4 separate regions of the Homo sapiens genome follow, and all the other regions are linked to region 4. The links come from fine-mapping of genetic effects on gene expression. A gene starts in region 4. Each other region holds a variant in brackets. All regions are shown on one strand. Distances are between the middles of the regions.

Evidence for each region. PIP is the estimated chance that this variant, and not a neighbour inherited with it, causes the effect. A credible set is the group of variants that fine-mapping cannot tell apart.
Region 1: its variant is the best candidate, but not a certain one, in a credible set for the expression of PRDM4 in whole blood (TOPMed, PIP 0.85).
Region 2: its variant is the best candidate, but not a certain one, in a credible set for the expression of PRDM4 in whole blood (INTERVAL, PIP 0.64).
Region 3: its variant is the best candidate, but not a certain one, in a credible set for the expression of PRDM4 in whole blood (TOPMed, PIP 0.77).

Annotation. Positions count from the first base shown.
Region 1 is chr12:107,628,796-107,633,795 of GRCh38, forward strand. The region is part of intron 11 of ABTB3 (ankyrin repeat and BTB domain containing 3); the gene reads left to right. Among named protein-coding and RNA genes, the nearest start is that of PWP1, 55 kb to the right of the region's middle. RefSeq lists an enhancer at 2,632-3,831. The variant T/C (reference allele first, on the strand shown) is at 2,319.
Region 2 is chr12:107,736,592-107,743,050 of GRCh38, forward strand. It overlaps PRDM4 (PR/SET domain 4), which reads right to left. Exons shown (of 12, transcript NM_012406.4): 9 at 5,630-5,757; 10 at 4,355-4,669; 11 at 2,792-2,960. PRDM4-AS1 (PRDM4 antisense RNA 1) reads left to right here. Exons shown (of 5, transcript NR_120474.1): 1 at 1-356; 2 at 1,431-1,898; 3 at 2,536-3,073. Among named protein-coding and RNA genes, the nearest start is that of PRDM4-AS1, 3.3 kb to the left of the region's middle. The variant G/A (reference allele first, on the strand shown) is at 3,320.
Region 3 is chr12:107,683,033-107,689,491 of GRCh38, forward strand. PWP1 (PWP1 homolog, endonuclein) reads left to right here and starts at 2,767. Exons shown (of 15, transcript NM_007062.3): 1 at 2,767-2,939; 2 at 5,416-5,474; 3 at 5,583-5,770. The coding sequence starts at 2,868. RefSeq lists a silencer at 1-146 and enhancers at 2,576-2,835, 3,056-3,105. The variant G/A (reference allele first, on the strand shown) is at 2,637.
Region 4 is chr12:107,757,525-107,763,983 of GRCh38, forward strand. PRDM4 (PR/SET domain 4) reads right to left here and starts at 3,613. Exons shown (of 12, transcript NM_012406.4): 1 at 3,433-3,613; 2 at 2,981-3,247. The coding sequence starts at 2,991. PRDM4-AS1 (PRDM4 antisense RNA 1) reads left to right here. Exons shown (of 5, transcript NR_120474.1): 4 at 751-868; 5 at 2,248-2,444. RefSeq lists silencers at 3,164-3,273, 3,324-3,903.

The DNA.
Region 1 (5,000 bases), 130 kb before region 4:
TATTTTTAATCCTCTTTGGAAAAGAACACCAAGGCCCAGAGAAGCTGAGTAACTTTGCCAAGGTTACAGAGCTAGTGAGTGAAGGGCCAGAACTAGGACCCCCTCCATCTGGTCCCATTGTTTATGTTTTTACCACCACATAGAACTCCAGCCTGAGCCACCTATAAAGGACCTTTGGGAGTAATCCTAGTGCTCCTTTCAGAAGAAAAGGAAGTATTTCCACATCTTTTTAGGAGAAGAGTGGAGTCAAAGGAGAAGAGGAAAGATGTCACCCCCCAAATTCACAGGACTCCATCTCAAGAGAGTTTCCTGGTAACTATGCTATTAAGAATTTTGCAGGGCCAGGCGTGGTGGCTCATGCCTGTAATCCCCGCACTTTGAGAGGCCGAGGCAGGAGGATCTCTTGAGCCCAGGAGTTCAAGACCAGCCTGGACAACATAGTGAGACCTCATCTACACACACACTAACACACACACAATTAGCTGGGCACAGTGGTGCACACCTGTAGTCTCACCTACCTGGGAGGCTGAGGTGGGAAGATCACTTGAGCCCAGGAGGTCAGGGTTGCAGTGAGCTGGGGTTGCACCATTGCACTTCAGCCTGGGCAACAGGGAGAGACCCTGTCTCAAAAAAAAAGAATTTTGCTTCACTCCCCTTTAGTTCTTTTGTATGACCACACAGTTCTGAGTCCAGAGGACCTGAATTTACTCCATGTGCACATCTAGAATTTTCTGTGAGGGACTTGAATGGCAAGTACCCAGCAGCATGCCAGTAACATGCACTAACCGGGTACTGTGTCCTCAGGCCTGGCCCCACCCCCACCCACCCACCCTCCTGGACTCATCCTGGCCTCCCAGGTCAGACCCTGCATGTGAAGACCAAATGGCCTGCTGCCCTGAGACTGCAGCCTGTTATCCCTTTGGCCTAAAGCACTGTGCTTAAATGTGCTGCTCAGAGAATCCAGGCATCTGACCCAGCACAACCACCACTCATTCCCGCCTCCAGAATGGAGCAAGCCTCAAGTTTGGTTGCTTCCATTCCATTGTCTTTGGGTTTTGATCCAGGACTTACCAAGCCCATAGGATAACCCAGCTTATCATCACAGTCTGACCTATGGATCTCACCCCCTGACAGCAGTCACCTGATACGAATGACACCACCCCTCACACTCAAAAGGGCCCTCCTGGAGTTCAGAATCGTATTGGGTCCCAGGTAACCAGGACAGATGACACTGGTGCTCCACTGCCTGGAGGAGGAGCACTGGGAAGGGCACAGGGCAGACACCTCCACAAACATGGACAGATTCAAGGATGCAGCGGGGAGTTTTCTCTTAGGACTCTGTTCCTTGAAAAAGAAGCGGCTAGAAAGCCTCGTAAAAGGCAGCATCTTTGGTGCCACCACGGCGTAGCACCCTAATCCTCTGCACAATGTCCAGCTCCCGGGAACCAGCCAGTGCTTGGCATTTAGTAGACGCTCAATAAATATTTGGAGAATGAATGAATGAATGAATGAGTGAATATGTAGCTTAGTGAGTGGGGAAACATTCCCTAAACCTCTGGCGAATGAATGGATGAAGTGTAGGGAGCCCCCTGATGTTCAGTTAAAGCCTCCACCCTCCCTCTTTCTCTCTTCTGAACTTCTACTGCTTCCATTATAATCATATTTCCATGGTAGGAAGTTTTTAAAATTTATTTTTAGAGGTGGGGTTTTGCCATGTTGCCTAGGCTGGCCTCAAACTCCTGGGCTCAAGCCATCCTCCCACCTCAACCTCCCGAGTAGCTGGGACCATAGTCATACACCACCATGCCCAATTAAAAAAAAAAAAATTTAAAGACAGGGTCTCATGATGTTGCCTAGGCGGGCCCCGAGCTCCTGGGCTCAAGCAATCCTTGGCCTCCCAAGCAGCTGGGACTATAGGCATGCACCACCACACCGGGTTTTTAAAATAGATTTTATTTTTTTAGGCCAGTTTTAGATCTACAGAAAAATTGAGAAGATAGTACAGAGAGTTCCCATATACCCCCTCACTCACTTTTCCCTATGATTAATAGGCTATATTACTATGGTACATTTGTTATAATTAATGAACCAATATTGATACATTATTATGAGCTAAAATCCAGACCTTATTCAGAGTTCCTTAGGGTTTTGTTTTTGTTTTTGTTTTAGATTCACAGGGTTTATGTGTGGGTTTGTTACATGGATATACATGATGCTGAGGTTTGGGCTTCAATTGAATCCATCACCCAGATAGTGAACATAGGGCCCAATGGGTAGCTTTTCAGCCCTTGCCTCCTTCCTTCTCTCTCTCCTACCTC[T/C]TTTGGATCCCCATTGTCTGTTGTTCCCAACTTTATTTCCATGTGTACCCAGTGATCAGCTCCCACTTACACGTGAGAACATGGGGTATTTGGTTTTCTGTTTCTACATTCATTCACTTAGGATAATAGCCTCCAGCTGCATCCCTGTTACTGCAAAGGACATGATTTCATTCATTTTTATGGCTGCATAGTAGTCCGTGGTGTATATTTACCATGTTTTCTTTATCCAGTGCACCACTGATGGACACCTTGGTTGATTCCATGTCTTTGCTGTTGTGAATAGTGCTGCAATGAACATGTGAGTGCAGGTAGGGTCTTTTGGGTAGAGTGATTTCTTTTCCTTTGGGAATATGCCCAGTAATGGGATTTCTGGGTCCAATGGTAGCTCTATTTTTAGTTCTTTGAGAAATAGCCAGAGTTCCTTAGTTCGTACCTGGTGTCTTATTCTGCTCCTGGATCCCATCCAGAGTACCACATTACACTTCATTGTCATATCTCTTAGGCTCCTCTCGATAGAGGCAGTTTCTCAGACTTTCCTTGTTTGGGGTGACCTTGAAAGTTTTGAGGAGCACTGGTCAAGCATGTGTAGGCTGCCCCTCTAGTGGAATATGCCTGATGTTTTTCTCATGATTAGACTGGGGTTATGGATTTTTCAGAGGGAAACCCTGGAGAGAAAGACACCTTATCAAGGGCACATTCCATCAAGGTGAGTTATCACTATTGATGTTGACCTGAGCCACCTGGCTGAGGCAGTGTTTGTCGAGTTTCTCTACTGTAAACTTCCTCTCTTCCCCTTTTTCCATACCGTCCTCTTTGGAATGCAGTGAGCATGCACTGCCCTCACCTAAAAAGTGGGGAGTTGCACCTCCCCCTGACCATTGTTACGTATTTGAAGATTGTCCATTTGGAACAAGCATGGCCAGCCCTTATATTTACATTCTCAGATGATAGAGTACACACTGAAGTTAGAAAGAGAGGTCAACTGTGAGTTCCAGCAGAGGAGGGGTCTTGCCTTGCCTGCTTCTGTGGCCCCAAAAGAGTGCCTTTCACACTGCAGGACACCTCTTCCATGTTTAATCAATACCTCCTGAATCGAGTTAAACCACCACCGCTGTCCGCCAAAAAAGAAAAACTCGCAAAAGAGTCTACAGACTGTACATGCCTCTCTCAAGGGCACAAGAGTCCAGGAAATGGGTTCTTATTGCTTCACTCGGAGTTGATTAGAAGGAAGCTGATTCACCAGCAAGATGCACGAGACACACCCTGGTGTAGATGAGTGAGACCTCATCCCTAACCTTCATAATACAGTCTGTACAAAGCATTTTTGCAGATAACAGGTCTTATCTTTTTTATGACCAGCCAGTACTTACCACGTGTCCACTATGTGTCTGGCACTCTGGATCACAGAGATGATGAAATGTGGTCCAATAGATGTAAACTTTAGATGAGATGTGTTAGTTTTCTATTGCTGCAGTAACAAATGACCATAATTCAGAGGCGTAAGGCAACACCTGTTTATTATCTCATGGCTTCTCTGGGTTGGAAATCTGGGTGCAGTGTGACCCAGCTGGGTTCTCTGCCTAGAATCTCAAGGGCAAAATCAAGGAGTCAGCAGGATTGTGTTCCTTTCTGGGGGCTTTGGGGAAGAATTGCTTCCAAGCTCTTTCAGAGATTTTTGGGTAGAGTTCAGTTCCTTGTGGCTGTAGGACTGAGGTCCTACTTCCTTGCTGACTGTTGGTGTCACACTTAACTCCTAGTGTGGTTACCTGAGTCCCCTCACGAGCTTGCCATGTGGCCCCTCCATCTTCAAGCCAGCAACAGAGCATCAAGTCCTTCTCAGACTGGGATCTCTTTGTCATCTTGTTCTCCCCCCTCCCGTCTGAAGTCCTTTTCTGCTTCTACTTTTAAGGGCTCATGTGATTACTTTGGGCTCGCCCAGATAATCCAGGATAATCTCTCTATTTGAAGGTCAACTCATGAGGAACTGCTATGCTCTTGAATGTTTGTCCCCCCAGAATTTAAATGTTGAAGTCCTAACCCCCAAGGTGGTGATATTGGGAGGTGGTGTCTTTGGGAGGTGAGTAGGTCTACAAAAGACACCCCAGAGGAGCCTCAGCACCCCTTCTACCACGTGAGGACATAGCTAGAAGGCACCATCTATGAGAAAGTGGGCCCTCACCAAACACCGAGTCTGCGGGCACGCTGATCTTAGACTTCGTAGCCTCCAGAACAGTGAGAAATAAATTTCTGCACTTTATAAGCCACCCAGTTTAGAGTATTTTGTTAGCAGCCCTAATGGACTAAAGCACTAACCTTAATTACTCCTGCAAAGTCGCTTTTGCCATGTAAAGTAACGTGTTCATGGTCCCAGTCCCAGGGGTTATTAGGGCATGCAATCTTCTAGGAGGCCATAATTATTCTTACCACACAGTGCTTCTCAAGCATGAATGTGCATGGGAGTCACCTGCAGAGTGTGTTAAAAATGCAGATTCTGATTCAGTGGGCCTGAATGAGAGTGTGCATTTCTTACAGGATCCCAGAGGATGCTACTGCTTGTGGTCTATGGAGCACGTTTTGGGTGGCAGGGCTTTAGGCCAGAGGAAACAAATTTATAGCCCACAGCCCAGGTCGAACCCATGACAGAATTTCAGTGCATGGAACCTGTGGTTCTCAAACTTAAGG
Region 2 (6,459 bases), 21 kb before region 4:
ACAAATACGATGGAAAGCCACCAGAGATGTATGAGTGGAGACAGGCACAATCTGACTTATATTTGAAATGGATTGCTCTGGCACTGCGGACAGAAAACTGTGTGTATGTGTGTTCATCTGTGTTGCGGAGTAGATGAGGAGAAACAGCAAGTAGTGGCAGGGAGATCAACTGGGAGGCTACTGAAGCCATCCATAGAAGAAAAGCTGGTGGTCTGGACAAGGTGTTAGTTGAATGAAGGAAGGAAGGAAAAACTGAGTTGAGAATTACTTCAAGGTGTTTGGCTTGACCATTGAGGTGAATAATGGTGGTGCCATTTAATGAGCTGCTCAGCACTGGAGGAAATCAAATTCATGGGGTAATACTGGGTTGAGTTTTGGACACATAAGATTTAAGTTGCCTAGCGAACATCCAGCATCAGAGCCGCTGAGTGATGGTGAGGTGTATGAGGGTGGAGACATAAATCATATGACGGTATCTAAAGCCATGAGACAAGATGACCTGGGGAGTAAACATCACTGTTCTTCTGCTCACTTCCTCTTTCTTACAGGAAGGGCAAAGCCAGGTTCTGTCACCACCCTTCCACTCTCGGGGGACACTAGGGGGGGAACTCCTCTTGCATTTGGCATTAGGGCTGTAGCTGTTTTTTTTAAGTAGATAAATAAAAAGACTGCTAATACTACTATATCCACTTTGAAATGCCCCAAAGTAAAAATACAAGCATCTGAAAATTTTACCAACGATCTCCATAGGAAGCCTAAAGCCTCATTCAAAACCATTTTGAGGGAACAGTGCTTCTTATAAGAATGACTTATACCAGCTTTAAGTTTTGACAGTCCAAAACCTTCTTTCTATCCCATGAAAGTTTGGCAAAGAGGCTTACCATATCTTCTCACCCTGAAAAGGAGTCCAGATCCACATTTGTTAAGCAAAAGTAAAATGAAAGGATAGAGGCTGATATCGACTTGATTCAAGCAAAACTTTTCCTCAAACTATAATTGTGTGATCTTTAAGAAACAATATATCCACTTGCCAGAGACATTGTGGAAATCAATCTTGCATGTGGATGAAGTCAGTAGTCCTTAACCCTGGCTGGCCACGAGAATCACTTGGGGAGCTTTTTAAAATACCAAGGCCAGAGCTCTAACTCTGACCAATTAAATTAGAATTCCCATGGATGGGGTCCTAGCACCAATTGTTGTTTTTCACATTTTCCAGGCAATTATAATGGGCAGTCTTCTGGACAAATATTTGTCCCCCCTCACCCCAAATTCACATGTTGAGGCCCTAACACCCAGTGTGAGGTGGAGCCTTTGGAAGGCAATTAGGGTTAGATGAGGTCATGAGGATGGGGCTTCCATGATGTAGGATTAGTGTCCTTATGAGAAGAGATTGGAACTCTCATATTCTTTCTCTTTCATTCTCTCAACAGAAACGTATTTTCTCACAGTCCTGGAGGCTGGAGTCAGAGATCAGGGTGCCAGCCTGGCTGGGTTCTGGTGGGGGCCCTCTTCCAGGCTTGCTCATGACTGCCTTCTCTCACTGTGTCTCTCCCGTTGTTTGAGCCACAAAATCTGTGGTATTTTATTATCACAACCTGAGCTGCCTAGACAGGATGTTAAGACTAGATGATCCGGGGATCTCTTTTGGCTCCAATATTGCACAATTTGATGTAATATTTGATAATTTCTGTCTAATTTTGTAAAATTTCATGCTAGCAATGGAACTAAAGAAGTCTTTGTTTTAGAATATCCTTCTGAGAGTTAGGAATGTAGATCCAGGCTCCTTGGCTGTTTAGCATCTCAGGCTGCATTGTGATAAGGAAGCAGACAGAAGAACTGGTATCAAAGCCAAGTGTTTATCCAAATTCTACATTAAGAATATAACGTTTTCAGTGAAGGTAAGATTTCTAAAGAGAATTTCCATAACATAAGCTGAAAACATTTTCTTCCTCTTCTGACACTTGTTAAAAGCTAAGGACAACAAAATCCATCTCTTCTTTCTATGACCACTGTGACTAATGCAGTCTAGACATTTAATTACACTTGGATTCATGCAATAAATACCTAATTGGTCTTCCAATATTTAGGCTTCCCCACCCTCAATCATCCTCTGTTCAGCTGCCTAAGTAATCTTTGTATTAACAGAATGGGTATGTCACTATGACACTCCTTTCCTTAAAATCCTATAGTGCTTGCACAACAACGTGAATATAACTAACACTATTGAACTGGGCACTTACAAACAGTTAAGATAACAATTTTTTTTTTTTAACTGCAATTCAGACAAACACACACACACACACACACACACACACACACACACCAACAGAACAGTTCCAAAATGGCAGGGGCTGGCAGATCCTTCAGTGTCTCGCCATTATTTCTGGACTGAAATTGAATTTTCTTAATAGGACCAAAGGTTCTCCATAGTGTGGCTGCTGACTCTTACTCTTCTCACTCCATCACTCTCTCACATGCACACTATCGTCTAACTATAAGCAACCACTTGCAGTCAATAGTCCTTTTTGTCTCTAGGTTTTTGTAGATGTGAAAAAAGAGTACATGTGAAAAGTAAGAAAAAGAAAGCCAACAACTGAAATCTTCCAGGATAACACCAAAAAAAGTGTTCCAACCTTGGCTTGGCTACATGGAACACAGAAGGCATCTACCATGGTACCAAGGCATGAAACAGATGAGCCAGGACTCCCCAGCCCTTCAATCAGCAGGTGGGCTGCAGCCACACAAAGGCTCACCACCTGAGGAACGACGTCTTGGCTGCAGGGTAACTTACTGAGTGTGGATGAGCACGTGCTGCTTGAGGTCCTGCCTCCGCATAAACAACTTGTCACAGTAATCACACTTAAGATTCTTCTCCCCAGTGTGGATAACCATGTGGGACTCCAGGTGAGCCTTCTGGGTGAAAGACTTGTCACACAAGGTACACCTGTAGTTCTTCTGACCTGCAATCAGCCCAAAGTATTACACCGTGAAGAAAACAACTGCTGGCATCCCCAAGACACACAGGCACACATATGTGCATGCAGCAGAGGCAGGAATGAAACAGAGCTGACTGGTAAGCAGCATTTTACTTTCTAGGGTTGTCTATGTGAGACCACTCAAGAGCTCCTGAGTTTATATTCTGCAACTAAAGCTAGTAAATTAATTTGATCTCCTTTAGGACCTCTGACCTAAATATGTATTTTTAAAAAATGTATAGGTGATACATAAAACTTGAAAAAAATGACTTATAATCCTAATGCCCTAACACAAACATAAAGAAAAAAAAAAAAAACTCATGAATTCTAGGACGTGTCTATAG[G/A]GAAACATACTTTTACAAGATAGATTTTATAGTTTTCTATCTTTTTAAAACATATAATATTGCCTCAAAACCAGGGATGAAACAAAATCCTTCCAAGAATGCAAAAATAAGATTCCTCTAAGGGGTCAGCAAACCTTCTCTTAAAGGATAGATAGAATTTTAGGCTTTGTGGGCCATAAGGTCTCTGTTGCAAAAGGATGGGGAAGAAACTTTTGAAGATCTGGAGAAAAGATGACCCCAACAAGAAAGCTAAAGCCATCAGTTATTTTGTAGTATTTATTAAAAAAAGTTAGTGGCCAGGCATGGTGGCTCAGGCCTATAATCCTAGCATTTTGGGAGGCTGAGGTAAGCAGACTGTTTGAGCCCAGGAGTTCAAGACCAGCCTTGGCAACATGGCAAAACCCCATCTATATTAAAAATACAAAAATTAGTCAGGTGTGGTGGCGCATGTCTGCAGTCCATGCTACTCAGGAGGCTGAGGTGGGAGGATCACCTGAGTCCTGGAGGCAGAAGTAGTAGTGAACCAAGATGGTGTCACTGTACTCCAGCCTGGGCAACAGAGTGAGGCCCTATCTCAAAAAAAAATTTTTTTTTTTCTTAAAAAGTACTAAAAGAAAGGTGTTGGTTTGCATGGGATTTAGAAAATGGAAGCTCAAAAAATAAACTGTGGCAATATTTATTGAGCAATAATATTAAAGGAGAGAAACTGGCTCTGGCTGGTGACTGGGGGGTGAGCTCTAATGAGAGGCTCAGACTCAGACTCAGAAGCTTCTATTTAAGACCAAACACATTGATCAACTTCCTGATTATTAAGTGCATTTTCCCAGGCACCTTCCAACTATGGTGGGGAGACCTGGAAAGCAGAACATCCTAATAATTGGAAGTGACAGCCTCCAAGGAATCTCAGTTAAACCACGAAGGTTTCTTTCTCTGACATCAAATCTCAACTCCACCTACAATCCCTCTACAAAGCCTTTACTACCGCATTTTCTAATTGTTGCAAAAATTCCATTCTGATGGGCCAACACAACTTACCTGTATGTATCTTGAGGTGGGTCCGCAGGTTGCTGGGATCACTAAAAGCCTTGCTACAGAAATCACACTTGTGGGGCTTCATACCCATGTGACCCATAAAGTGGACATGAAGTTTGGAAGGAGAGATAAAAGCTTGGGGGCACATTGAGCACTTCCACTTCCTTTCTTTGCTGTGACTTGGCCCATGGCTGCCGCTATGTCCCTGGGTAGGAAGATGGTTATGGATGTGGCTGGTCAGATGGGCTTTGAACTCTGTGTAAGAATTGCACTCCTTGCCACAGTTACAGAGATGCACATCTGGGTGTTCAGGAACACCTTTTAAAAAAAAATTACTCATTATCTCCCAATACTTGAATCTTAAAACTTGTTCTTGATATTAACAATCATTGCTTCCAGTTCTCCTTTCTCTCCATATTTCCAATTTGCCCACTTCCTATAAAACTAAAATAATGTACTAAGGGCATCTAAAATAATGTACTATGGGCCAGGCACAGTGGCTCAGGCCTGCAATCTTAGTGCTTTGAGAGCCCAAAGTGGCATGATCATTTGAGGCCAGGAGTTTAAGATCAGCCTGGGCAACACAGCAAGACCCCATCTCCATAAAAAAAAAAAACTTAAAAATCATTGGCTGGGCATGGTGATGTACACCCATAGTCCTAGCTAATCAGGAGACTGAGGCAGGAAACTGCTTGAGCCCAGGAGTTGAAGGTTATAGTTGGCTATGACTGCACCACTACACTCCAGCCTGCCAGAGTGAGACCTTATCTCTAAATACACACATACATAAGTAAAATAAAATAGTGTACCAGGCACAAAGAAAGCACTTGGTAAATACTGGATTATAAGGCCTCTTTTGTAAGCAAAATATTTAGGTTTTATAGCATACCCAAACTCTTAAACATTAGCTGTCATCATGAAACAGCACAGCAAAGAGAAAGCATATGCAGGTTAAATCAAACCGAGGGACTTCGCTGTCCTTCATGAATTTATATCTCAATGGTGCTAGCTCGAAAAGTAGCCTAAGGAACTTCAATGCCCCAAACCAAAGTCCTACCATAAAAGACCGTATCATATGAATTATTGCTTGGTCAATAACATTCAGCTTGTGAAGAATCTCACAGATTTTAACACCTCAAATACAAGTAATAGTTTGCATTTATACAAACAAAGGTATATGATTTGCTTCAGCTAACATGTAAATCATTACCAAAACTTTAATCCTGGTCTTTGGTATTTTTACTAAGCCAGATTCATTATAAACACATATTAACTTACCAATCTGTTGAGCATAATCTCGGCTATAATAAAAAAGCAGTTCATTTTCAGGAGGGATATCTTGTGAGGTGCAGAAAAAGATTTTTCCATCATGAGGATAAGCCACCAAATTCTGCTCTTCCCGGTTCCTGAGTTATCACATTTAATAGATCAAGCACATTAATTTTGAAATGCATACTAAGTACAACATTCCCCCATTGCAAAATCCTATATGAAAGCTTAGGCAGAACTATTTACTATTTCCTCTGGAATGTTTTTGTAATTTCCCGTCCTATCTATGAGAAGGCAGTTGTAGAGAAACAGAATTCTTACTTCAACATATTAGCTGATGACCTTTTGTAGTCAAAAACACTACAGTCTGTTATTGGAAGCAAACAAGATAAATAAAATGAAGTCTTTAAAAAACAGTATGACAAAGACATAGAGCTAGCTAGCTAAACAAGAATTAACTCCAGTAACTCAGGGGTGGACTAACAGCCAATATAAAGAAAAGGCACCCACTTTCAAATTCAGTGGTAACTATATTGTTCCTTGGTAAGTGCCTTTTTTTTTTTTTTTTTTGAGACAGAATCTCACTTTGTCACCCAGACTGGAATGCAACAGCACCACCATAGTATGATCACAGCTTGAACTCTTCAGCTCAAATGATCCTCCCACCTCAGCCTCCCAAGAGCTGGGACTACATGCATATACCACAACACCCAGCTAATTTGAAAAAAACTTTTTTTAGAGATGAGGGTCTTGCTATGTTTCCCAGGCTGGTCTCGAACTCCTGGCCTCAAGCGATTCTCCCACCTCAGCCACCCCAAGTGCTGGGATTAAAGGTGTGA
Region 3 (6,459 bases), 74 kb before region 4:
CTCAAAGGAGGGCAAAGTGGATTTAGGCCGAGCCACGGAGCCCACCCTAAATCTGTCTCTTTTTAAAAATGGCAAATTTTGTGTTATGTATATTTTACTATAATAAAAATTATGGAAGGATTTTTTCTTTTAAAGTTAGTGGTTAGAAACAATCTTTTACTAAGCTCACAAATTCTGGGGGTCAGAAATTTGGGCAGGGCACAGTGGGGATGTCTTGTCTCTGTTCCATGATGGCTGGGTCTCAGCTGAGCAAGCTCAAACGCTGGGAGTGAATCAATGTCTGGGAGCTGGATTCACCTAAAGGCACTTTCATTTACAGGTCTGGGTTAACTCAAAAACTACAACTGTCTACTGGAGTACCACATGTGGTCTCTCCATGTGGTTTGGTTTCCTAACAGCATAGTGGACTCAGGGTAGCTGATATGGTTTGGGATCTGTGTCCTTACCCAAATCTCACCTTGAATTGTCATAATCCCCATGTGTTATAGGAGGGACCCAGTGAGAGGTAATTGAATCATACGGGCGGCGTTTTCCTGTGCTTTTCTCATGATAATAAGTCTCATGAGATCTGATGGTTTTATTAATTAATTAATTTATTTTTATTTATTTTTATTTTTTGAGACAGAGTCTTGATCTGTTGCCCGGGCTGGAGTGCAGCAGTGCGATTTCGGCTTACTGCAACCTCCGCCTCCTGGGTTCAGGTGATTCTCCTGCCTCAGCCTCCCAAGTAGCTGAGACTACAGGTATGCACCACCATGCCCGGCTAAGTTTTATATTTTTAGTAGAGACGGGGTTTCACTACGTTGGCCAGGCTTGTCTAGAACTCCTGACCTTGTAATCCAACTGCCTCGGCCTCCCAAAGTGCTGGGATTACAGGCATGAGCCACTGCACCCAGCTGAGATCTGATAGTTTTATAAAGGGGAGTTCCCCTGCACATGCTCTCTTCTTGCCTGCTGCCATGTAAGACATGCCTTTCTTCTCTTTTGCCTTCTGCAGTGATTGTGAGGCTTCCCCAGCCAACTGAAACTGTGAGTCCATTAAACCTCTTTTTCTTTATAAATTATCATGTCTTGGGTATGTCTTTATTAGCAGTGTGAGAACAGACTACCACAGTAGCCAAACTTTATATGGTGGCTCAGGGCTCCAAACATTAGTGTTCTACTGGTGGGCAGTGGGGGAGTGGGTGGGGGGTGTGGAAGTGGAGAAGTGGGTGTGGTGGTGGGGAAGCAAAACCTGCATCCTATTTATGACTTAACCTTGGAAACATCATTTCTGTCATACTTTATTGGCCAAAGCAGACCTACAACTACCCAGATTCAAGTTGGTGGGGGCGGGGGGGGGTGCTTTGATGGAGGAATATCAAGATCACGTTGCAGACAAACATGTGTGAAGGACTCTATTGTTGCAGCCATCCTTGAAAAATATTATCTGCCATATGGTCTTTCTAAAATGGGTTAAAAGCAAAGAAACCACAGAAGAATCATCTTACAGAAACAGAGCAGGGGGAGAAGTCTTAATGGACAAATAATCTGCCTACACAAACAATGAGCAATTTACTTCTGGGAGGATCTCTCCTCAGGCAGGGAGATTGCCAAGCGCATTAGGCTGAGTAGAGTTGGTGACAGAACTCATAGTTGTATCAGCTCCTCTGTGTGTGATCTGAGTAGGAAAGTATTTGACTACTGGGGACTCTAGCTTCATCTTTAAAACAAAGTGTTGTGAGAACCAAGTAAAATACTGTATAGAAAGATAAATGTGTTGCAAAAAGGTCCCCGAATAGAGCCCACAGGTGGACACCCCCCGTTTGACAATGCCACTGGGAAAGACCATGTGTACTGCCAGTTTATCCTTGCCACTGTTTCCCCATAGCAGCCACCTTCCTGTTTCTTTTGCTTGCCTCTCTCAGAGGTAGATGCATTGAGGGTAAATGACCAGGACAGGGCCACACAGCCAAGAGATCAAAACCCAGATTTTTCTGGGATGCTAGTTTGAGATTTTCCATTCTACAAACGTCCAGCCACTCACGAGTTCTAACAGATGACTGATCTTAGCTGAGAAGCATGACATAGATACAAGGGAGTCACACTGCCCGGGTTCATATCCCAGCTGCACCGCTTACTAGCAGTGTGACCTTTGGAAGGATCGCTGTTTTCCCAGGTGTAAAACGGAAATAAGACCTCCCACAAAGGGGTAAGTAATCACGTGATACGGCACTCAAAACAGCGCCTTCAACATAAGTAAGCCCTTTGTGTTTGCCAAGACTAAATCACTACTGCATAGTTAGTATATAATTGGTGCTAAATGTTTTTTTCTCACTTTTTTTTTTGGTGCTAAATGTTTTAAGGTGAGAAAGTAACATTTAGGGATGTAATGAGATGTAATGGTGGGATCTCCGTGAAACGACAAATTCATTTTGGAGAAAGCTTTTTAAAAAACGCAAACCACAAACCTCTGCCATTTGTCAGCTTGAAGTCTACGGAACTGCAAGCAAAATAAAGATTGGTGAAACTTTGCTTCTGACTGACCCCTACAGTCCCAAATATTTTCTTGGCCTTTACAAAGCCCGCAGGCATCGTCACATGCAGTCCTGAAAAGCCTTTTCTCTATACTTCACACAGCCCAGACCAGCCCACGT[G/A]GATTCCTCGCCCGGCTGCTTCCGCTTCCATTTTGTCCCCTCCTATTTCTCATTCGGCGCCTCAGAATGACGTCTGAAATGAGCGCCGACGCTGCCCAAACAGGAGCCTGCGCATGCGCTCTGCCCTGGCAGCGGCCCTGTGCAGATCCCTGAGCGTGTGGCAGCAGTGCGGTCGTGGTCCCTCCCTATGCAGCCTGGTTTCTAGCGTGACACGCCCTTGACTTGAGGACCATGAACCGCAGCCGCCAGGTGACGTGCGTGGCCTGGGTCCGCTGCGGCGTGGCCAAAGAGACACCAGACAAGGTGAGGCCTGGTCGCTGGGAGACAAGGGGAGCAGCGTCTTTACGGCACTGGGGGTCCGCCCAGCTGGGGGAACGTGGACCCGGAACTCGGGGCGTTGGCTGGTGCGACTGGCTGGGGTGAGGGCGGCTTTGCCCGGATTGTCGCGACTAGAGCTGCAGTTCAGAAGGTCTGGTTCGCCTGAGCCTGGAGAGTCAAGGGCCGCGCCTTCTCACTGTTCCCACCCTCAAGCCCAACCCCACTCCCAAATTCGCACGCACATGGACTTAGCGGGCCGGAAAGGGGTGGGCTGCTGTTTTTGGTGGGTAATACCCCAAAAGGCTTTTTGACAACACCACTAGCTTCACTAGCACCCAAGTGCATTTTCAAGCATAACTGGGAAGAGAGCATGAAAACTCCACTTTCCACTCTTGTGCTCCGTGTCTGAAGGAGTGAGGATGAATGTGGTGTAGAAAAACTGGTGTGGAGGCTAAGATGTCGTGAGGCTGGGAGATGAATAGGGAATTTCTTGCAGTAATCCAAGTGAGATGTTGATGGTAGCAGGGAGGATGAGAGGTAAATGTCTAACACATGAAAAACCTACAAGAGTTGGAGACTGAGACTGTAGCAGAGGTGACGATTACTTAAGTAATTTCCTCATTGGATACTAAGTGCTTTCTGTAGGCCAGGCATTGTTCAGGGTCCTGGGATAGGCATGAACAAAATAGAAAAAGTCCCGCCGGGCGCGGTGGCTCACGCCTGTAATCCCAGCACTTTGGGAGGCCAAGGCGGGCGGATCACGAGGTCAGGAGATCGAGAGCATCCTGGCTAACACGGTGAAACCCCGTCTCTACTAAAAATACAAAAAATTAGCCGGGTGTGGTGGTGGATGCCTGTAGTCCCAGCTACTCGGGAGGCTGAGGCAGGAGAATGGCGTGAACCCGGGAGGCGGAGCTTGCAGTGAGCCGAGATCGCACAGCTGCACTCCAGCCTGGGCGGGCAACAGAGTGAGACTCCGTCTCAAAAAAAAAAAAAAAAAAAAAAAAAAAAAAATAGAAAAAGACCCTGCCTTTATGGAGTCGACATGTGCACATATAGTATGTCAGTGGGAGTTAAGTTCTACCAAACAGTAAAAGGGGTTGATTTGAATGTACTTGACCAAGATAATGATGATGGTGATAGGAATGTGATTGGCTTGGACATGGAGTTAACAGGAATGACGGATTGGAGTAGTCCCAGTAGTTGTAAATTCCACCTGGGCACAGACTGTTTTATTTACTGTTTCTCCAGGGTTTGGTTGATGGTAGGCACTCGGTGTTACATTTATAGAATAGGGACAGAAAATTATTTCATATAAAAATTGTTGGAGGAAACAGTTATTAAAAAGAGACATATAGCCTTTCAAATACTTGAAGACTGATTTCCAAATGAATCTACACATTGAAAATCTCACACTTGGGGAGGTTCAAAAAATACTGATGTTTATGTCCCACTCCCAAGTATTGTGTTGTAATTAGCCTGTAGTGTAGCCTAAATTATTTAAGATTCCCTAGGTGATTCTGATGTACAGATAAGTCTGGGAACCACTATTTGAAGAGTTTATAGGAAAAAGAGATTGAATTTATGAAATCCTAGAAAGGAAAACTTGGACCAAATGAGAGAAATTGGACAAGCCAGTTGCGGTGGCTCGTGCCTGTAATCCTAGTCATTCAGGAAGCTGAGGTGGGAGGATCGCATGAGCCCAGGAGTTCACAGCTGCAGGGAGCTGTGACCATGCCACATCTCTTAAAAATTAAAATTAAGGCCGGGCACGGTGGCTCACGCCTGTAATCCCAGCACTTTGGGAGCCCGAGGCAGGTGGATCATTTGAGGTCAGGAGTTCCAGACCAGCCCGGCCAACATGGTGAAACCCAGTCTCTACCAAAATACAAAAATTAGCTGGGCGTGGTGGCGCGTGCCTGTAATCCCAGCTGCTCAAGAGGCTAAGGCAGGAGAATCGCTTGAACCCGGGAGGTGGAGGTTGCAGTGAGCCGAGATGGCGCCATTGCTCTTCAGCCTGGGCAACAGAGCGAGACTCCGTCTCAAAAAAAAAAAAAAAAAAAAAAAAAAAAAAGAACAGAGGACTCATGTAAGGGTGATTTGTTAAGGAATGCCCACAGGGAAGAGAGGGAGAGGTGCCCTAGACAGAGTCAGAGATGGTTGGAAGAAAACCAGACGAGTACCACACAGCCACTTTACCAAAACCAGTCTTTGGAGTTTTAAGACTAAGAGGTGGAGTAGAATGAGCATGATTTTTGAAGTTTCAGGTAGCGAGAGATCTTATTTGTAAGAATCTATAAAATCTATATTTTTTAATATAGAGTCTGGATTGATGTTTGATTCTTATCTTGATGACATTGCTTGGCGTTACATTTTACATTTGTTTGCAAACTACTTTTTAATTCAAATAATTTGATGATTTCCTTACACATATTGTAATGAAATCTTTGCTCTCTTACAGGTAGAGCTGAGTAAAGAAGAAGTAAAACGCCTCATTGCTGAGGCAAAGGAGAAATTGCAGTAAGTTTAGGACCAGATGAAATCTATATCTTAAATGATGATGACCATGTGGTCTTGTTATTAGAAGGTAGCATTTGGGTGATTCTCTTTTTCTTTCTGTGCTCATAGAGAAGAAGGTGGTGGCAGTGATGAAGAGGAGACAGGCAGTCCTTCAGAAGATGGCATGCAGAGTGCACGCACCCAGGCACGCCCAAGAGAGCCCCTGGAGGATGGTGACCCAGAGGATGACAGGACGCTTGATGATGATGAGCTGGCTGAGTACGACTTAGATAAATATGATGAGGAAGGTGACCCAGGTTAGTTTATCCACTTCTGATGGTTTGTAATTACAAGCTCAATATGTTGGATCATGTTTGTGGTGTTCCAAAGCTTTACTCTTAGATTTTATTGTTCTTGACATCAGTAAGATAATCTGGTTGAAGACTTGGGCAGACAGCATGATTCCTAAACTAGTTTAGAAGATAAACTCTAACCCACTAAGATACAAATCTAGGATCTAAAAAAAAAAGTACTGTGTATTTTATTGCATATATCAGGTTTAATAATCTGTAACCCACTTGTGAGTTTTTGTATGCAGTTATAATGCTATGGTGTGCTTGAACTTATATCCATATACCTTTTCCTCAACTGCAGTCAGTCTTCTCACAATACAGTAGTCCCCCCTTATCCACGGTTTTGCTTTCTTCGGTTTCAGTTAGCCACAGTCAACTGCAGTCTGAAAATAAGTGAGTAAAGTACAGTACTTTGGGAGAGATGACTTTCACATAACTTTTATTACAGTATATTATCATTATTTGATTCCTAGGTACATATAGGAAAAACATAATGTATATAAGGTTTGGTACTATCTGTGGTTTTAGACCACCACTGAGGGTCTTGGAATGTATCCCCCGTGGATAAGGGGGGACTACTGCCTGCATTTTGAGATGCTGTTCTTGGAGATAATTAGAAAAAGAGGCCAGGTGCACGTGACTCACGCCTGTAA
Region 4 (6,459 bases):
GGGTCATTATGTAAGCTTTGCTACCACTTCACTTAAAATGACTTCAAATCCTCACACCAATACTGCAACGTAAGATAGATGAGGGAACTATGGCTCAGAGAGGCCATGTCATATGCCCCAAATCACATAGCTATTAAGTGAAAGATCACAGATCAAACTGCAAAACACTGCCAAAAAGTTTTTCATTGCACCAAACTTTTTTTTAACTGCACCAAACTTTTTTTTTAACTACAGACTATTTTTGGCAAGGTGAAGAACCTAGGAATCACCTTTTCTATGCAAACCATCTTGCACTGCCATTACAAATGTCTTTCGAATAAGAGTAATACTGATTTGAATAAAACAGCACTGAAGGTTGTTATCAAAAAGTATTAGTTCTTATATCATAATTTAGAGACTGCCATACTATAAACATTACAGAACCACTAGGCTAGCCAACAGGTTACCCAAAAGGGGCTCTCTAATGACCTCCAGTCCTTACACTGGGCTTTATTCTCTGCGTATGGGAGGGGGTGAAGCAGAGAAGAGGAATCAAATGAGGTTACATATTCCTTAGCAGTGAAATCAAATCTAAATAGGTTTTTAATTCTGAAAAATGGCAATGCCATTTTATCAATCAACCTGAAAATAATAATAGCTAAAATTTATGGCTCCCTTACCATGTGCTATGTATTGGGCTAAGTGATTTATATGTAACTATCTCTCTTAATCTTCTTTTTTTTTTTTTTTTTTTTTTTGTTTTTGAGACAGGGTCTTGCTCAGTAGCTGCAAGCTGGAGTGCAGTGGCGTGATCACAGCTGACTGCTGCCTCTACCTCCTAGGCTCATGAGATCTTCCCACCTCAGCCCCCAAGCAGCTGGGACCACAGGCAAGTGCCACCATGCCTGGCTAATTTGTTTTTATTTTGCAGAGATGGGGTCTCCCTATGTTGCCCAGGCTGGAGGTAGGTATTATTCTTAATCCCACTTTAAAGATGAGGAAACTTAAGATTCAATGATGCTAGGAAACTTAACCCAGAATCACATAACCAGTAAGGAGAGCTGGGATTTAAATTCAGAACTAATTTAAGAAACCAAAGCTCTTAACTATAGTAAGAAAAAGACAATTACAATAAAAGAACTATATTGCCTTTTACACAGTTGCAATACATTAGGGCCTATCTACTTATATTGTGGCGTATATTTAAAGTTCCACATAGACCTGTTTCTTGCATTATTAGGTTTCACCCTTATCCCTGGCCATGGATCCCATAAAACTAAGCTCTAAGACATCAATAAAATGTAAAAGGCCAACCTAGTACCTTGTATAGAACAGACATTCTGAATTTTCTTATTTTATCGGATGGAGCTATGCAAACTCATCACCCTTACCAGAAAGACAGCTAGAAGCACCTGGCAAATGAGGTACACCTTATGAAGAACAGCATGCTAATAACAGTTTTTATTATGCTATAAAATAAAGCAGCCCAGGTGTGGTGATTTACACCTGTAATCCCACACTTTGGGAGGCCAAGGCAGAAGGATCGCTTGAGCCCAGGACTTGGAGACGTCCCTAGGCAACACAGTGAGACCCCTGTCTCTACTAAACATTTTTTTTAACTTAGCCAGGCATGGTGGTTCGTGCTTGTGGTTCCAACTACAGGGGAGGCTGAAGTGGGGAGGTCGGGGCTACAGTGAGCTCTGCCTGTACCTCTACACGCCAGCTGGGGTGACAGAGTGAGACTGTGTCTTAAAAACAAAAAAAGCAAAAAATCCCTGTAGCCTAAAGAAAACATATCTACCTTAATTTTGAAAGTTGCTGGGCTTGAGTTGGTTTAAAACAGACTTTTCCCTAACTCTTTATAGCTACAACCATAATTAAAACACTACAATCACTACAGCTGTAACAGCCTACTTAACAAATTGGTTACAATATTTTTTTAAAAGTACAACTACAAGTCTGCACCTTCAACTCTCATTCTGAAAATTCCTGAATATTTATTTAATTTCAAGATAAAAATCAGCATGGTGTTTCTAGGTTGACTCCTAGGCCTTCTCAAACCAGTTCAAACCAGAGTTTAATGCGAGAGGCTCAGCAGATTTCTGCTTTGTTGTGAGTCACTAAAACGTGATGACCTCAGCAGCCATAAACCAAAGGTAATGAGTATCCCACAGAGAGAAGGCAGATGAAGGGAATGTACAATATGATCCTCATAAGACTTTCTCATTCTAAAATGCAGTTCTATTCTCATTTTCTTTCTCCTATGAGATTCTAAGAAGCAATCCCGGAAGAAGGCAAGAATCAAGATACTAAGCTCTATCTTCCCTACTCATTTAGGGTAAAATAATTTCCTACACAGTTCTACAGTTTATGTGTGTGTTTCTAACTGACCTATGCAACCATCTGCCAGTTGCTGATTTTACACCTTTTTCTTCGCATAAAATATAATAAACTAACTGAAATGCAGCCACTTTGAAAAATGCAGTGGGGCTTCAATAATTTCAATGAATTTGTGCCTTATCTTCCTTATTCTAAACATACGGCCTTTGAAAGGGCCTTGAAAAAACAGCCAAATGCAACAATTTCTGTGGCCTGCTTCTGTACTTAAACATCAGCATGAAGCTTGCAGAATTAAGAACTTAATTCCCTCACTATCGTCCCTGCCATACCAGCAAAACTCAAGGTGAAGCATAATAAGATAACAATACACGTTGGAATCCGGAAAAATATATTAAACGCTCAAATAACTGAAAGACACAGGAAAAGGTGTCAACAAGCCAACAATAAACGTGTGGCTACTGGGAACAACTTTCCACATGTGGAGTAAATTAGGATGCATGAGATTACATTCCACCCAACACTAGTTTCTGGATTTGTTTCCTTTGCAAATCACACCTGTAACCTTCTCAATGGCACCAAAAACAACGGCACTGACCCTGGACACTCACTCGCCAGAGTTTCCAACGATGTCACCAGTGCTGAAGCCCACCTCCCTACTCACCTGTGATGCATCGGCTTGGGGCCAAATATCAGAGAAAGGAGCGCTCGGGTGGTGGGGAACAGGCATCAGGGTTTGCGTTCCAGGGTCACGTGCTACCACATCTTGCTCACAACCGCTGCACCGACGCGGCCACTCGTCCCCGGGGTCGCCCGGGGCCGCCCAACTTCTCCCGAGGGCCGGTGGCCGTGCACCCCGCCACGGGTTGGGGCATCTCGGGGAACACCTGGGGCCTTCCGTCCAGAAGCTTCGGGAAGGGGGCTGCCCAACCTGGGGGAGTGGGGACAAGAGCGGTCACCAAAACCACAACAAGGTCGCAGCCCCCATCCCAGCTACCCGAAAGCCCCAGGCGCTGCCGACACCGCCACCCAAGGGCTGTGGATTAGCCCGCCCGCGGCCCGCAGGCCGGGCCGCCGCGCCCCGCCCCGCTCCGGCCGGGCCCGCGCGCAGCCCACCTGCCAGCTGCGCTGGGGGCGCACGCGCCTGCCCCACTGCTTTGTTCCTCATCCGGGCAGAGTTCGCCTCGGGGCCCTGCCCGTCCGCTCGGCCCCCTCACCCCGGGGGCCGCTGCCCTAACGTTTCCCGTCCCGCCCGGCCCTTCCCGGCCCGCGGCCTCCTCTGGGCCGCACCCTCTGCGGCGCGTTTCCGGATCCTCAGCCACTCTCAGCGCCCGCCGCTCCGCCCCTCGTGCGTGCGCCCTCCCCGCCGCGGCCCGCAAGCGGCGCCCGCGCACCGCGTCGCCCTTCTCCCAGCCCAGGCCCCTCCGCGCGTGCGCACGGCAGAGGCACTGGCCGCGAGAGGCTCGGCCGGGAGTTCCGCGTCTCCATCCGGCCGGGTAGAATCGAGCGCCGAGCGATCGGCCCATGGTTGCTAGGCGACCAGGGCTGCTGTTCCTGCAGGGATTGAGTTTTGAATCCCCTAAATCCCGCAGACTCAGGATTTCGTCTTCATGACATTCCCCTACTAGAGAAGCATGGGTCCACACAAAGCCCCCAAAATTCGAAGTATGGGATTTGGCCCCGAGGGTTGCCTCTGCTGCCCAGGAGGAATTGGGATTCTATCCTGAATATTTTCGGCCGTCTGCTACACCTGAAGGCTGCCCAGTTTCCCTGCTTCCCGTCGTAAATGCTGGGGTTTGGGATTTTAAACAAAATTTCCTTCCCCTTTTCTCTGCCCTCAGTTCTCTACTGCGCGCCAGGCACTGTGCCTAACGCTAGGAGTACCGAGATGGCTTTAAAGGAAGGTGGTCCCAAGCTCCTGAGCAGTAGACGTTGAAATTACACCACACTGCCTGGTGGCTCCCTTACACCAGCAGAACAGCAGACCCAGGAATTCTTCCTGTCATTCACAAAGCGTCTGTTGAATTACATCTCAAACCTAGGGATACAGAGCAAGGCACAAGCCCTGACCTTCACCTGCCTGCAGTCTAGTGGGAACTGATGAATTTTGAAAATTCAGTCTAATGTGAAAGGGTAGAGGCACATGCAACCTTTTGGACGAGAGCTGGGAGGGGTGTCAACCCCCATAATGTTTCCCTTCGTTTACTTCTCATGGGGGGAAAGCACATTCCAGATGAGGAAACTTCACTGAACATTGGCAGGCAGGTCACATTGGTTTTGCTCTCTGTTGACAACAAATAGAAATCTAAATCAAGAAGGTCATCATCTCAACTGAGAGACAGTATTCCCTGAAATGCCACTTCAAATCTGGAGCCTAGAGAATGATGATGTATCTTATTACCGGCCGAATGCTTTCACTAGGTTTGGGTTTGGATGTCTGTTCTTTTGGAACAATTTTATTAAGTTGAGAGGTGAACATAAAAATCAGGTCACATAAATGTAAGAGCTAAAACCATAATACTTACAGAGGAAAATAAAGGCAAAAATCTTTGTGACCTTGATAGGACAAAAAAATCACAAACTATTAAAAAATTGGAGCAAGTGCAGTGGCTCTCTCCTCAGCACTTTGGGAAGCTGAGGTAGGAGGATCGCTTGAGCCCAGGAGTTTGAGACCATCCTGGGCAACAAAGTGAGACCCTGTCTCTACAAAAAATAAAAAAAATTAGCTGGGCATGGTGGTATGCACGTGTAGCCCCAGCTACTTGGGAGGCTGAGACAGGAGGATAGCTTGTGCCCAGGAGTATGAGGTTGCAATGAGCTAAGATTGTGCCACTGCACTCCAGCTCAGGTGACAGAGAGAGACCCTATCTCAAAAAAAAAAATGACAAATCGAACTTCATCAAAATTAAAATGGTTGATCTTGAAAAGATACTGTCAACAAAATGAGTCAAGTGAGAGACTGGGAGAAAATATTTTCAAAACAAATATCTGACAAAGGATTTGTATCTTGACTATATAAAGAACCCTTTAAACACAATAATAAGAAGACAATTAAATTTAAAAACTTAGGCAAAAATTTCAACAGCCATTTCACCAAAGAAGCTATATGGATGGCGATTAAGCACACAAAAAGATGTGCAGCATCATTAGGTATCAAAGAAATGCAAATCAAAGCACAATGAAGTGATATTACACACTTACTAGAATGGCTTCAATTAAAAAGACCAACTATAACAAGTGTTGGCACAGATATGGAGCAACTGGCACCCTCACATTTTGTTGGTGGGAATGCAAAAAAAATGCCACAGCCATTTTAGAATTTCTTTCTTTTTTCTTTCTCTCTTTTTTTTTTTAGACAGAGTTTCACTGTCACCCAGGCTGGAGTGCTGTGCTGTGGTCTCAGCTCACTGCAGCCTCTGCCTGCTGGGTTCAAGTGATTCTCCTGCCTCAGCTTCCCCAGTAGCTGGGATTACAGGTGCTCACCAGCATGCCTGGCGAACTTTTGTATTTTTAGTAGAGATGGGGTTTCACCATGTTGGCCAAGCCGGTTGCGAACTCCTGACCTCAAGTGATCCACCTGCCTTAGCCTCCCAAAGTGCTGGGATTACAGGCATGAGCAACCATGCCTGGCCAGCAATTTCTTATACCTCTTATACCATCCAATTCTCCACACTCCTTAGGTATTTACCAAAGAAAAATAAAAACATATGTACAAAGACTTGTACGCCAATGTCCATAGCTGCGTTATCTGTCATAGGCCAGAACAGGAAATGACCCAAATGTCCATCAACTGGTAAATGAATAATGATAGTGTACAGTATCTATACAGTGGAATACTCAGAAATAAAAAGGAACAAGCTGTTGATACATGGATGGATCTCAAAGACGTATTATGCTAAGTGAAAGGAACCAGACACAATAGACTACATATTATGAGTCCAGGTATGAGAAATTCTAGAAAAGGCAAAACTGTAGTAATAGAAAGCAGAGAAGTGATTGTCAGAAGTTGGGAATGGGTTGGGGGATGAGATTGCCTACAGTGGGGGCATAAGAGAACTTTTAGGAGTGATGAAAATGGTCTTGATTGTGGTAGAGGTTACACAATTGTATACATCTGTCCAAATTAATCAAATAGTAAACTTG